Linked DNA regions of Homo sapiens: all the other regions are reported to be linked to region 1. Evidence: microRNA targets listed by miRTarBase, many of them from high-throughput screens and not tested one by one. Region 1 holds a microRNA gene; each other region holds the end of a gene's coding sequence.

Evidence for each region. The annotated mature microRNA hsa-miR-1911-3p reads CACCAGGCAUUGUGGUCUCC and lies in region 1 at 2,185-2,204, opposite strand. An mRNA with a match to its seed (bases 2 to 7 or 8) in the 3' UTR can be bound and repressed. Matches are read on the target gene's strand: a 7mer-m8 pairs with bases 2 to 8, a 7mer-A1 pairs with bases 2 to 7 and ends in A, and an 8mer does both.
Region 2: the mRNA of NUMA1 is a reported target of hsa-miR-1911-3p. Seed matches in the 3' UTR shown: 7mer-m8 at 2,548-2,554.
Region 3: miRTarBase lists RNF111 as a target of hsa-miR-1911-3p. Seed matches in the 3' UTR shown: 7mer-A1 at 289-295.
Region 4: miRTarBase lists C1QTNF6 as a target of hsa-miR-1911-3p. Seed matches in the 3' UTR shown: 7mer-m8 at 846-852 and 7mer-m8 at 711-717.

Annotation. Positions count from the first base shown.
Region 1 is chrX:114,762,285-114,765,435 of GRCh38, reverse strand. It overlaps MIR1911 (microRNA 1911), which reads right to left and starts at 2,252; the gene lies at 2,173-2,252. All of the region lies in intron 4 of HTR2C (5-hydroxytryptamine receptor 2C), which reads right to left. All of the region lies in intron 3 of LOC105373313 (a long non-coding RNA gene), which reads left to right.
Region 2 is chr11:72,000,825-72,003,824 of GRCh38, forward strand. NUMA1 (nuclear mitotic apparatus protein 1) reads right to left here. Exons shown (of 27, transcript NM_006185.4): 27 at 2,040-2,714. The coding sequence ends at 2,703. IL18BP (interleukin 18 binding protein) reads left to right here. Exons shown (of 6, transcript NM_001039660.2): 4 at 377-500; 5 at 581-728; 6 at 960-1,980. The coding sequence ends at 1,037. Among named protein-coding and RNA genes, the nearest start is that of IL18BP, 3.4 kb to the left of the region's middle.
Region 3 is chr15:59,094,657-59,097,656 of GRCh38, forward strand. RNF111 (ring finger protein 111) reads left to right here. Exons shown (of 14, transcript NM_017610.8): 14 at 127-2,763. The coding sequence ends at 244. Among named protein-coding and RNA genes, the nearest start is that of CCNB2, 9.0 kb to the right of the region's middle.
Region 4 is chr22:37,179,739-37,182,738 of GRCh38, forward strand. It overlaps C1QTNF6 (C1q and TNF related 6), which reads right to left. Exons shown (of 3, transcript NM_031910.4): 3 at 428-2,997. The coding sequence ends at 2,450. IL2RB-AS1 (IL2RB and C1QTNF6 antisense RNA 1) reads left to right here. Exons shown (of 2, transcript NR_199008.1): 2 at 2,691-3,000. Among named protein-coding and RNA genes, the nearest start is that of C1QTNF6, 7.0 kb to the right of the region's middle. RefSeq lists enhancers at 1-748, 749-1,608.

The DNA.
Region 1 (3,151 bases):
GTAAAGTGGGAAAAATACTTATATGTTGGTTGTGTGGATTGAATAAGATAAATGGACAGAGTAAGTGTTCAATTAAAGTTAGCTATTATAGTACTTGTTATAATAGCTTCCTTCACCACCATCATTCAACCCAGTTAAAAGGCTCTTGGCATAGACATACAGGCTTTGAGGGAAAAGTTCATGAAGTAAGGACTGAGAACTTAGCTCTCTAGGAATTGGCACATTAGCAGACAATATAAAAATCACTGAAAGTTTCCAAGGCTGGGCATGGTGGCTCATGATTGTATTCTCAGCATTTTGTTAACCTGAGGTGGGTAGATTGTTGTAGCCCAGGAGTTCACAACTAGCCTGGGTAACACAGTGAAACTCTGTCAAAAGAAAGGAAAGAAAAAAAAAGAAAGAAAGAAAAAAGAAAGAAAGAAAGAGAGAGAGAAGGACGGAAGGGATGAATGGAGGGAAGGAAGAAAGGAAGGAAGAAAGATAGAAGGAAGGAAGGAAGGAAGGAAGGAAAAGAAAGAAAGAAAGAAAGAAAGAAAGAAAGAAAGAAAGAAAGAAAGAAAGAAAGAAAGATTGATTCCATGAAGGAGTGAGATTTAAGAAGAAAAAGGAAAATGAGGAGAATCTTCAAATCACCAGAACTGGACACTACAGAGGGAATTCTAATCTTTCTTGAGAAGACAGAGGATGTCTCCTCTTAAGGAAGAAAACGTAGGAGGTGCGTCCCATTGTTGGCAGTAGAATACTGATAGCATTTAAACTTTTGGTGCATTGTTTTCTTTATGTATTAAATAGGGATAGTACATGTATAATACTTGGAACAATGTCTGGCCCTGAGCAAAAACTCAAGTGTTGGCCGTTGTTATTTAGCTTTGACAGTGCTGCCTATCTGCCTGTAGTGAAATTATTTTTGCAACCAGAACTGGAATGTTAACTACAATTACATTATTTATTTATTTTGTGCATTTATTGGGGAATTAAACCAGTAATTAATATGTAAAAGTTGTACATTTCTTTTACTTTTTTTTTTTTTTTTTTGAGATGGAGTTTCACTCTTGTTGCCCTCAGGCTGGAGTGCAATGGTGCGATCTCGGCTCATCGCAACCTCCACCTCCTGGGTTCAAGAGATTCTCCTGCCTCAGCCTCCTGAGTAGCTGGGATTACAGGCATGCGCCACCACACCCAGCTAGTTTTGTACTTTTAGTAAAGACAGGGTTTCTTCATGTTGGTCAGGCTGGTCTCGAACTCCCAACCTCAGGTGATCTGCCCGCCTCGGCCTCCCAAAGGGTTGGGGTTACAGGCATGAGCCACCGCACCCAGCCAAAGTTGTACATTTCTAAGGAGGATAGAAGAGAGAAACAGCAAAGGATAACCAGAGGTAGAAGACTCTAGATATAAGAACAAAAATCAGGACCTCTGGACTGTATTCTTCCACATATGTCATTATAATTTAAATATACTGATACCATTATTCTTTTTGTATTTAGAATGGAAACTTACCCGGTAAAGAAATTTTTTTCTCTAGGATAAAGATCCCGCAGTGAAGTGATTAAGGATATTGTTAAAGGGAAAAGTGATATTGGGAGAAGACATTTCAAACCCAAAGTAATGATTCACAGGTGAAGATATGTGGGCCTGGGAATTTCCAAGAATATCACCTCATGAACTGATTTGCAAAGAGGAAGGAGGCCTTCATCTATCCATTAAAAAGAAAAAGACCAGATATAGGAGTAGATGCTAGGTATATACAAGTACACAAGGCTGACAAGTTACCTGCTAAGCTTTTCAGAGGGATGTTTTTTGGGTGAATGCCTGAGGACAGGAATTAAGGCATCAGTGTATAGACTCAAGATCAGCCCTGTGGAATATGTAAGCCCTGTGGATGATAACCATAAGTAACAAAGAAAGATAAAACAGAGATAGCTGTTTTACAGAGGGACTTTGTGAAGGGGACAGGGACAAGTATTGCTTTTTCAATGTTTAGATAACAAAATGTGCCACAGTTATAAAGGGGCATTTTCCTAATTTATGCAAGGAACACAGCTAAGTACAATGAATACTGACGCAAATGCAGCACACCTGGTATCTTGAGGGTTTGTAGATTTGGCAGCCCCGGGTGACAGCACTCTGGAGAAGTAACCAGCATTCTCATGGAAGGCACCGGTGGCGAAATGGCAAAGCGTCAGCGGAGACCACAATGCCTGGTGGGAGACTGTGGATGCCCAACAGACATGGCGGTACTCAGCAGATGCCGAGCAAATGATGATGGATACCCAGTGGCAGATGATGGATGCCCAGTGGGAGATGATGAATGCCAAATGGGAGATGATGGATGCCCAGTGGTAGATGATGAATGCCCAGCAGATACTATGAATGATGACGGGTGATGGTGGATACATGTGTGCTCCATGAAAGCCCAGAATAATTGCAGCAGTGCATGATGAAAATTGATTTGCTCATGATCACACGAGAGAACCACTGGTGACTTCTAGAAGTACTTAGGGGAAAATGAGTGTACTTTTTCTAGAGGGCTAGAGGACCTTTGTTAGCACAGGGGTGAATGTGGAGTATCAACATGAAAGCTATTTCTTCTGTGCTCACAGCTGTGATGCCCATCACAAATGTAAACACTTTTAGGGACCAGGTAGGTAATATCAGTGGGTAGGACAGCTGGGTATAAGAAGATGGGGAGTGGTAGAAAAGATAGCAAAGTTGGAACTCACTCTTAAAATGTATTCAAATGATAAAGTTTAAAAATTGTTGGCTAGGCCAAAACAAAATTTATCTGCAGGCAAAATTCAGCCAAAGAGCCACTATAACAATATGTTCCAATACCCTAGGGCTTAATATGCCATCTATCTAGGGATATGGTACCACCTTTATACACACAAGAAAATTGTTTCACTTTGAGAATGACCTCTAGTTATACAAATTTTGGAGGTATTAATATATATGAGAAGATTGTCTTCTGCTATTCATTAACCAATTCGAAGAAATCAGGGAGATTTTATTTATTGCATGTTTATTTTCATAAACTGTATATGTTTTGAGAACATTTAGGACAACTTGGACTCCAGTGAGTAACTTTTGATGGAATCCTTGAAAATCCCCAGGGATGACAGTGGAAAATATGATGGATCTACACTTTCTAGAT
Region 2 (3,000 bases), not on the chromosome of region 1:
CCAGCCCCTCCACCCAGAGCCTGCTGGCCTCTGGCCATCTCAGAGGAGCAGCAGCCATCCAGCACTGCCTTTGTCACCTGGGCTCCCAAGTCACCGAGGCTGGGCACTAGAAAAGGTCATCCTGAGGAGACAGGTTCAGAAGAGGATTCATCACGTGAACCAAGGACCATTCCTCACATTCCCCGTGTTTAGGGCTAGGGCCTCTCGGAGACAACTGCACTTCTGTAACGGACGTTCCCACCTAGGTGGTGTGCAGAGCAGTTCTCTAGGTTCCAGATGCATGGGGACTGGGGGGAGCTGGCAGGGAGGGCACAGCAGAGCAGGGTAGGGGAAGGGCCTGCTCTTCTGAAGAGCTAACTGCTGCCTGTGTCCCTAGATGGAACGCTGAGCTTATCCTGTGTGGCCTGCAGCCGCTTCCCCAACTTCAGCATCCTCTACTGGCTGGGCAATGGTTCCTTCATTGAGCACCTCCCAGGCCGACTGTGGGAGGGGAGCACCAGGTGAGGGTCGCAGCAGCCAGGTGGGTGGGAAGGAGGCCTTCTGCGGCCTTCTCATGACCTTTCCTTCCCTTCCGCTCCAGCCGGGAACGTGGGAGCACAGGTACGCAGCTGTGCAAGGCCTTGGTGCTGGAGCAGCTGACCCCTGCCCTGCACAGCACCAACTTCTCCTGTGTGCTCGTGGACCCTGAACAGGTTGTCCAGCGTCACGTCGTCCTGGCCCAGCTCTGGGTGAGGAGCCCAAGGAGAGGCCTCCAGGAACAGGAGGAGCTCTGCTTCCATATGTGGGGAGGAAAGGGTGGGCTCTGCCAGAGCAGCCTGTGAACTAATGCCCAGCATTCCTCAAGGTCAGCCAGACAAAAAGGAACTTAGGTCTTGGGCAGAGGAGGTGTAGCCTGGGGCAAAGTGATGAGATGTCCCTCCTTTCCTTGGCCTGATCCTTGTCTGCCTTCACTTCCCTAGGCTGGGCTGAGGGCAACCTTGCCCCCCACCCAAGAAGCCCTGCCCTCCAGCCACAGCAGTCCACAGCAGCAGGGTTAAGACTCAGCACAGGGCCAGCAGCAGCACAACCTTGACCAGAGCTTGGGTCCTACCTGTCTACCTGGAGTGAACAGTCCCTGACTGCCTGTAGGCTGCGTGGATGCGCAACACACCCCCTCCTTCTCTGCTTTGGGTCCCTTCTCTCACCAAATTCAAACTCCATTCCCACCTACCTAGAAAATCACAGCCTCCTTATAATGCCTCCTCCTCCTGCCATTCTCTCTCCACCTATCCATTAGCCTTCCTAACGTCCTACTCCTCACACTGCTCTACTGCTCAGAAACCACCAAGACTGTTGATGCCTTAGCCTTGCACTCCAGGGCCCTACCTGCATTTCCCACATGACTTTCTGGAAGCCTCCCAACTATTCTTGCTTTTCCCAGACAGCTCCCACTCCCATGTCTCTGCTCATTTAGTCCCGTCTTCCTCACCGCCCCAGCAGGGGAACGCTCAAGCCTGGTTGAAATGCTGCCTCTTCAGTGAAGTCATCCTCTTTCAGCTCTGGCCGCATTCTGCAGACTTCCTATCTTCGTGCTGTATGTTTTTTTTTTCCCCCTTCACTCTAATGGACTGTTCCAGGGAAGGGATGGGGGCAGCAGCTGCTTCGGATCCACACTGTATCTGTGTCATCCCCACATGGGTCCTCATAAAGGATTATTCAATGGAGGCATCCTGACATCTGTTCATTTAGGCTTCAGTTCCACTCCCAGGAACTTTGCCTGTCCCACGAGGGAGTATGGGAGAGAGGGACTGCCACACAGAAGCTGAAGACAACACCTGCTTCAGGGGAACACAGGCGCTTGAAAAAGAAAAGAGAGAACAGCCCATAATGCTCCCCGGGAGCAGAGGCCACTAATGGAGAGTGGGAAGAGCCTGGAAAGATGTGGCCTCAGGAAAAGGGATGAGAGAAAGGAGGTGGTATGGAAGACTCAGCAGGAACAAGGTAGGCTTCAAAGAGCCTATATTCCTCTTTTTCCCACACCGATCAAGTCAACTCAGTACTCACGGGAGAAAAATAGACTTTATTTACAAGTAATAACATTTAGAAAAGATCCATCCCCGGCCCTTAAAAACCTTCCCATCACTCCAAATCCCACCCCAGTGCAAGTCTGGGGAAGGTAGGGTGTGAGCTGCTGCTGAAGGCTGTCCCCCAACCCCACTCCTGAGACATAGGGCCCATCCGTCCTGGGAAAGAGCATCCTCTGGCAGGTGCTCCCACCAGGTCAGACCCAGTCCTGGACTTCAAGAGTGAGGGCCCCTGCTGGGCCCAGCCACCAGGACAGCAGGAACCAGGGCCTACTCCTCTTATGGTCCCTTCTAGATCCAGAGGCTAAGAGGAAGACTGGCCAGGCCCAAGGACCCAGCCATCAAAACCAGCCTCAAATCTGGTTGTGATGGAGAAGTGACTTTGCTTTAAGAAAAAAGGAGGCAAGGTAGGGAGAGCGCCCACACTGTCCATGCTCCAGGCCCCCTGGGCCAGCTCCGAGAAGGCGCCAGTGAAGGACCAGGGACCAGGCCAGGGTGCGGGCAGGCATCACTGTCTCTAGGGGTTTGGCTACTGTTGGCCTGGGAGCTGAGAGAAGGCACTGAGAGGGACAGTAGGCGGAGGACCAGGTGAGGTCAGCATCGGGGACACAGGTGGGGCCACTCACTGGTACTGGCCCTTTAGTGCTTTGCCTGAAAGAGACACAGTCACATGGCCAGATGAGAACTTGCGATACTAGCCTGCACCCACTGGCTGGGAAGATCTCTTCCTGCTCCCACGCCCCTGTCTGGATCCCCTCCCTTGTGAGCCCCAGGGTTATCAGTTGCTGGCTGTGCCTGAGCAGCTCTGGGTGCTCTCCATGAGAATGGGGCCATCTGTCTTCTCTCCTTGGAGAGGAGCTACCAGGACAGGGACACCTCTTACCCCACACCCTCCAGCAGCCTGGCGTGGCCCCATCTTGGATGCTACTTGGTGGGG
Region 3 (3,000 bases), not on the chromosome of region 1:
TTTTTATAGAAGAGGAAGATGCTTAGTACCTTCAAAACATTATTGAATTATTACATATATAATTTGTTAACTACGTACAATTATCATAAAATTAATTTTTGCTTTTTGTTTTCTTGCCAATAATAGACGTCTTCCATGTATGCACCTTTTCCACCAAGTGTGTGTTGACCAATGGTTGATTACCAATAAGAAGTGCCCCATATGCAGAGTGGACATTGAGGCCCAGCTGCCAAGTGAAAGTTGACACCATGTTTCAGAACTCTTGCCCTCCCTCTCATTCCCATCCTTCCTGGTACTGCAGTCAACCAAAGATGGCATGACTTACCTGCGCAGATTTGGAAGCATTGAACTTAGAGTGCTGGCTCTGCTATATGGTACAACTAATGCTAGACCTACAGTTTATGTATACAGTTGATTTTGATGTATTTATAAAAGCTTTTTTTTCTAGATTTGACATTTTTCTGTATCATTTTACTGTATTTTTGCATGGTTCCTTGTATTGCATTTCTTTGCACATATTATGGGCTTGTGACCCTAAACTTGCAGGCAAGGTTAGCTGCTTTAGTAAGTAGAATTTTGTGGTCTTTTTGTTTTTTACATAGTACCAAGCCTTGATAATTATGAATTTTTTATCCATTACTAACCTTTAATTTAATCAATCATGTACTTTAGTTTAATGTATAAAGATCCTCTAGAAAATGATAATATTGTGTATTAAGACATTCCTTAATTAGGACAAAATGGCTGCTGTATATTTACTATATGGAGTTCTGAGTTAAATACCATCCTTAATACTGGGAACAGAATACAACCCATATAAATCAGATGCAGGTGGTAGTCACATCACCAGAGTGATCAGTATAAATTTTCTTGGTGTATCCTTTTCCTTTCAACACAGTGCAGATAAGAGTTGAATATTGATATCATACATTTAGACTGCTGTTCTGATTGCATTTATCTTTTTCCTACATCATTTAGAATTTTATTTCCCTGATTCAGTTTTTGCTGCTGTGAAACAGCTCTGATGAACACTAAATATTAATTTCAATTAGCTAGATTGTACATACTTGCAGATTTAACAAAATTTTAGGGAAATTGAAAAAGACATGTAGAATTTGTTGTCTTCTGCTAAGCACGAAAAGTTAAGATATCTGCTTACATTGATTTTGTAGACACATTAAGTCAAGATTTGGAATTTAAGTCACTGGCAGGTATCTGTGCATTCATAGAACTTATAAAGGTCCCAGGATCACTTTTAAGGGATTTTTATTAGTTTAAAGGTAAATAAAGTCAGCTGAATCTACATGTCTCTTGTTTTATTTCTCTCTAAACTTGAAAACAGTAAATCTGCAGATACTGTGAGGCACAAATTATACTGTCAACCTACTGTTGCTATGGTTATATACTCCCACTTCATACATTACCAAGAGTCGATCACTGATTTAAAATTTTTAATTTCTATAGTTAAGATTTACTGCATAATATAGAATATAAAGTTAAGTTAACATACTAACATTTCTCCTTTGGAGGAAGTTTTAATCTACTTCAGGATGCATATTATTATCAAGATACTTTCATATACAGGATAGCCTAATTTTATTTGTTTAAATATGCTTAATATGCCCCAGATTGCAAATGCATCCAGTCAGTAATATCACTGTCTGTATGTGGAGGACATGTTCCCATGGATCATATGTGAAGATGTCAATAAGCTTGCATTAAGCCACCTGCTTTGTAAGTGGATTGATTAATAAATAACTTATATTTCTATTGTCTTTGTGTTTCATAATTAGTTTTTATAAAAACAGTTTACATTAAACATCTTGGAATTCAACAATAGTGATCTCACTCAAATTGACATTTGCATAATTTGACATTTATATTCATTCAGTTATGACTACTTGCCCTTTTCTTCATATTAGTAAATGTTACACTGTAGTAGTTGTCAATGTTAACAGGCTTCAACATAGTATGTGTGCAGATGGACGATGGATTTAAAGAGCATACCTTATGATTAAACCGAGGTTATAGAAGGTCAGGGGAGAGTGAAGGAGTCAGTGACCTATGTCTGCCATCTTACTGGGGAAAAGAGCAAGTAGCCTGTCTTCCTTTAAGTAAGTAGCCTGTAATGGATGTACTACTTTGCCACTGGAATACCCCGGGTCTGTGCCAAGGGACTGAAGAAGTGTAAGATGGGGAGAACTGTATGTCATGGAGTCCTCTTGACGTTCCCCCAGATACAAGTAAAGCACAGGTGGATTTCTCTATTTTTGAATACTACATCAGATTTAGATGCACGACTACCTGTTGACTTGTTTTATAATTGCTACTGATTTTTTTAATGTAGGCAAAGCTTTGTTACTTTGAAATTTATTTAATAAAAGTATTTGTGACATAAACCTGAATTGTTAATATAGGAGCTTATTAAGCTACTGCCATTAGTTATCGAAAAATGTGATAAGTAATGAAGAAAGTAAGGAAGAAAATGACTTTGAACATTTTGACTTTTTGTGCTTTGTTTTGGTGTCTTCCATATCCTGCTGCATCTTATATGTCAAAATGAACATTTCAGTGGTAGCTGTCCAAATACATAAAAACTAAAATTCTTTTGTTAGCAAGTCCTTATTTTTATTGTTGTTAACATGCAAGTGATAAACTGATAATTTGAAACATTTTTCTTACTCTGGTGACTTTCTTTTAGCTGCTAGCACACTTCAGCATTTGAACCATAACAGTTGTGATAAACTGATCGTTTGAAACGTTTTTCTTACTCTGGTGACTTTCTTTTAGCTGCTAGCACACTTCAGCATTTGAACCATAACAGTTGTGATAAACTGATCATTTGAAACGTTTTTCTTACTCTGGTGACTTTATTTTAGCTGCTAGCACACTTCAGCATTTGAACCATAACAGTTGACTTAGAGAAAACTACTTTTGTTTTAAAAACTGTTACTTGTTCACGCCTGTAATCCCAGCACTTTGGGAGGCTGAGGTGGGCAG
Region 4 (3,000 bases), not on the chromosome of region 1:
AACAGTTCTCTCATCATAATTAAACGCAAAACATGCGACAGGGTCCCCGGGGCGGGAGGTGGGGGGGCTTGCGTGTGCCTCACTGGAGCATAAACGGCACAGGTGCTCAGCTCTGCGCCACACAGTTGGCGCTCAGCAGATGCTGAGCATGAACGCGGCACTCATCAAGCAACCTGGCATCTGATCCTTATGTCCACCGCATGAGGTAGATTACCATTGTCCCCATTTTACAGACAGGAAACCGAGGCGCAGAGATATGGGGACTTGCCCGAGGTCACAACCAAAGAGTGACACGGCTGACTCTATGCTGGTGCCACTAGCTCCAAGGCGCGCCAGCTGCGTGAGTGACCTGGGGGCTCGCTTCTTTGTGGGCAGGGAGCACGCAGAGTGGGCAGAGGGAGCCGAGCAGAAAGAACCAGTCTGAATCGCCAAGAGGAGACAGCATTCTTTAATCATGCTGGACGGCAGGGCGTGGCGGGGTCAGGCAGGGGCAGGATCAGGCAGGGTGGTTTATAGCACAGGTCTTCCTGGCACTTGGTCAGACCCTGTTTCCGTCATCTGGCCATGGAGCCACGGCTCCTCGGCTGTGAGCACCAGAGATCACCCCCCGGGGCACCTCAGCCCCAGAGTCTGCATGAGCACCAATGGGCGGAGGCCGCCTCCCTCTGGGGAGAAGGGCAGGCCACCTGGGTTTGGAAGGCTAGGGGAACACCAGGCCACCCCACCCTGGAAGAAGAAACGGAAGGCCTGAGGTCCCTCCTTTGCTCTAGCTCCCCAGACCTGCTGAGGGCTCTAAAGCCTGGGGCTTCCGTGGCCCTTCTCCTGCAGGTGTTTGTAAAGGCAGCACCAGGCCGGAGGAGGGCTCTGAGACGAGGAGCTGCCCACCCGGGCCTTAGCACCTTGATAAAGCCTGGAGAGTCGGGGCACTGGGCCGGTGAGAGGGGCATGAGGGGCAGAGAGCACCTGGGGACAGACATCAGTGTCTGAGGGCAGCTGGAGGCCCTGGGGAAACGGAAGTTCAGATGACTTTGGTGGAAGGGACTGAGCAAGGCCCTGGCAGAGCCCTGGGAGGAGGCAGGAAGGGGATCCCAGTGAGGAGGGCAGGTCTTCTCGCAGGATGCCGTATCAGCTGTGGGGAGAGCTATGGGTGTGGGTTCCATTCTTCGGGGGCCACTTCACCCCCCAAATGCCCCCACACTCCTGGGTCCTCTCCTCACAGAACCCTTGACCTGGCCAAGGCCCCCTGGGGTTTGCTGTAACGATGAGCACTGGGCAGGTGGATGAGGAACGGGAAGGAGATACCTGCCCCTGCCACCGGGACCCCGTCCCACCAGCCTTGGGGAGCAGTGGGTAATGGAGGACCAGCAGCACCTGAACACCCAGAACACAGGCCCCCATGAGCTCTGGGTCTGCTTTAAAACCTATGTACACATCTCTCCCCGCCTGGGCTGGACTGGCCAGTCACTGAGGGCAGGGGCAGGGCCTGTGTCTGACCCCCTCACCCTTCCCGGGACCCAGCACAGAGTGAGTGCTCAGTGTTTAATGAATGAATAAATGAACGGTGGCTGCAGTGGTGCAGGCCTGAGCAAGAGAAGAGGGGGAAGGGGTAAAGAGAACATAGCACGGGGAGCCCTGGAGGGATGAGAGAATTTAAGAATGTTGGAATTGGCCAGGCACGGTGGCTCACACCTGTAATCCCAGCATTTTGAGAGGCCGAGGCGGGTGGGTCACCTGAAGTCAGGAGTTCAAGACCAGCCTGGCCAATATGGTGAAACCCCATCTCTACTAAAAATACAAAAATTAGCCAGGCATGGTAGCAGGCGCCTGTAATCCCAGCCACTAGGGAGGCTGAGGCAGAAGAATCGCTTGAACCCGGGAGGCAGAGGTTGCAGTGAACTGAGATTGCACCACTGCACTCTAGCCTGGGCAACAGAGCAAGACTCTGTCTCAAGAAAAAAAAATGTTGGGAGAATTCTAGAATGTGGGGAGGATTCCAGAATGTTCAGAAAGTACTAGAATATTGAGAAAGTCCTAGAACCTGGTTGCTCCAGTGTGGTTCATAGACTGACCCCATCAGCATCACCCAGGAACATATGAGAAACACAGAATCCTGGACCCACTCAGACCTGCTGAGTCAGAATCTGCATTTAACACGAACCCCGGGTGATTCGCATGCATTTCCAAGTTTGAGAAGTGCTGGGCTACGAGGCTGGGAAAGTTCTAGAATATTTAGGTTAGCAAGCTTCTTAAAATAGGTCCAAGAGAGAAGAGAGGAGCAGAAATAGGCTGGGAGGGATGATGGCAGCCAAGATAGAAGCAGGGTCTCCCCAGAATGCCAGGTCCCCGGGGACCTCCCTGGCCTTCCTGCTTCACAGCAGTGCAAACTGAGCCCTGCAGGGGACGGGACCAGCACCTGAGCTCTCCAGCCGGGAGGGTGGCCCAGAGGCCCTCAGTCGTCCTCGGCCTTGATGAGGTGGCCGCTGAAGGTGATGTAGGTGTCGAAGTCGTTGCTGTAGATGGCGTTCTCGCGCTGGCGCTTGAAGAGCCGCACCCAGACGCGGTCCCCGTAGGCCAGGTCCAGCATCACACTCTGGCTCTGCATGATGCTGCGCTCGCTGGGCTGCGCGTACAGGATGACAGCCTCTTTCTGGTTATGCATAATGTGCACGTACGTCTCCTTGTAATTCCAGCTGTGCACATTGAGGCTGAAGAAGTAGATGCCACGCAGGGGAGCAGCAAACTGGCCGGTCGCCATGTCAAAGCACCCATCAAGGTTCACAAAGACCCTTTCGAAGAGCAGCGTCTGGAAGTCCTCGCCGCTGTGCAGGGCCGTCTTGCGGCCCACTGAGAAGGCGAAGAAGCGCTTCTGGCACGGGGCGCCGGGGCTGCCCATCTCCCCCTTGTCACCCTTGCTGCCCTGAGGGCCAGGCTCCCCTTGGGGACCCTCCCTGCCCATGTACCCTGGCAGGCCCATTGGGCCTGGGTCCCCTTTGTCACCTG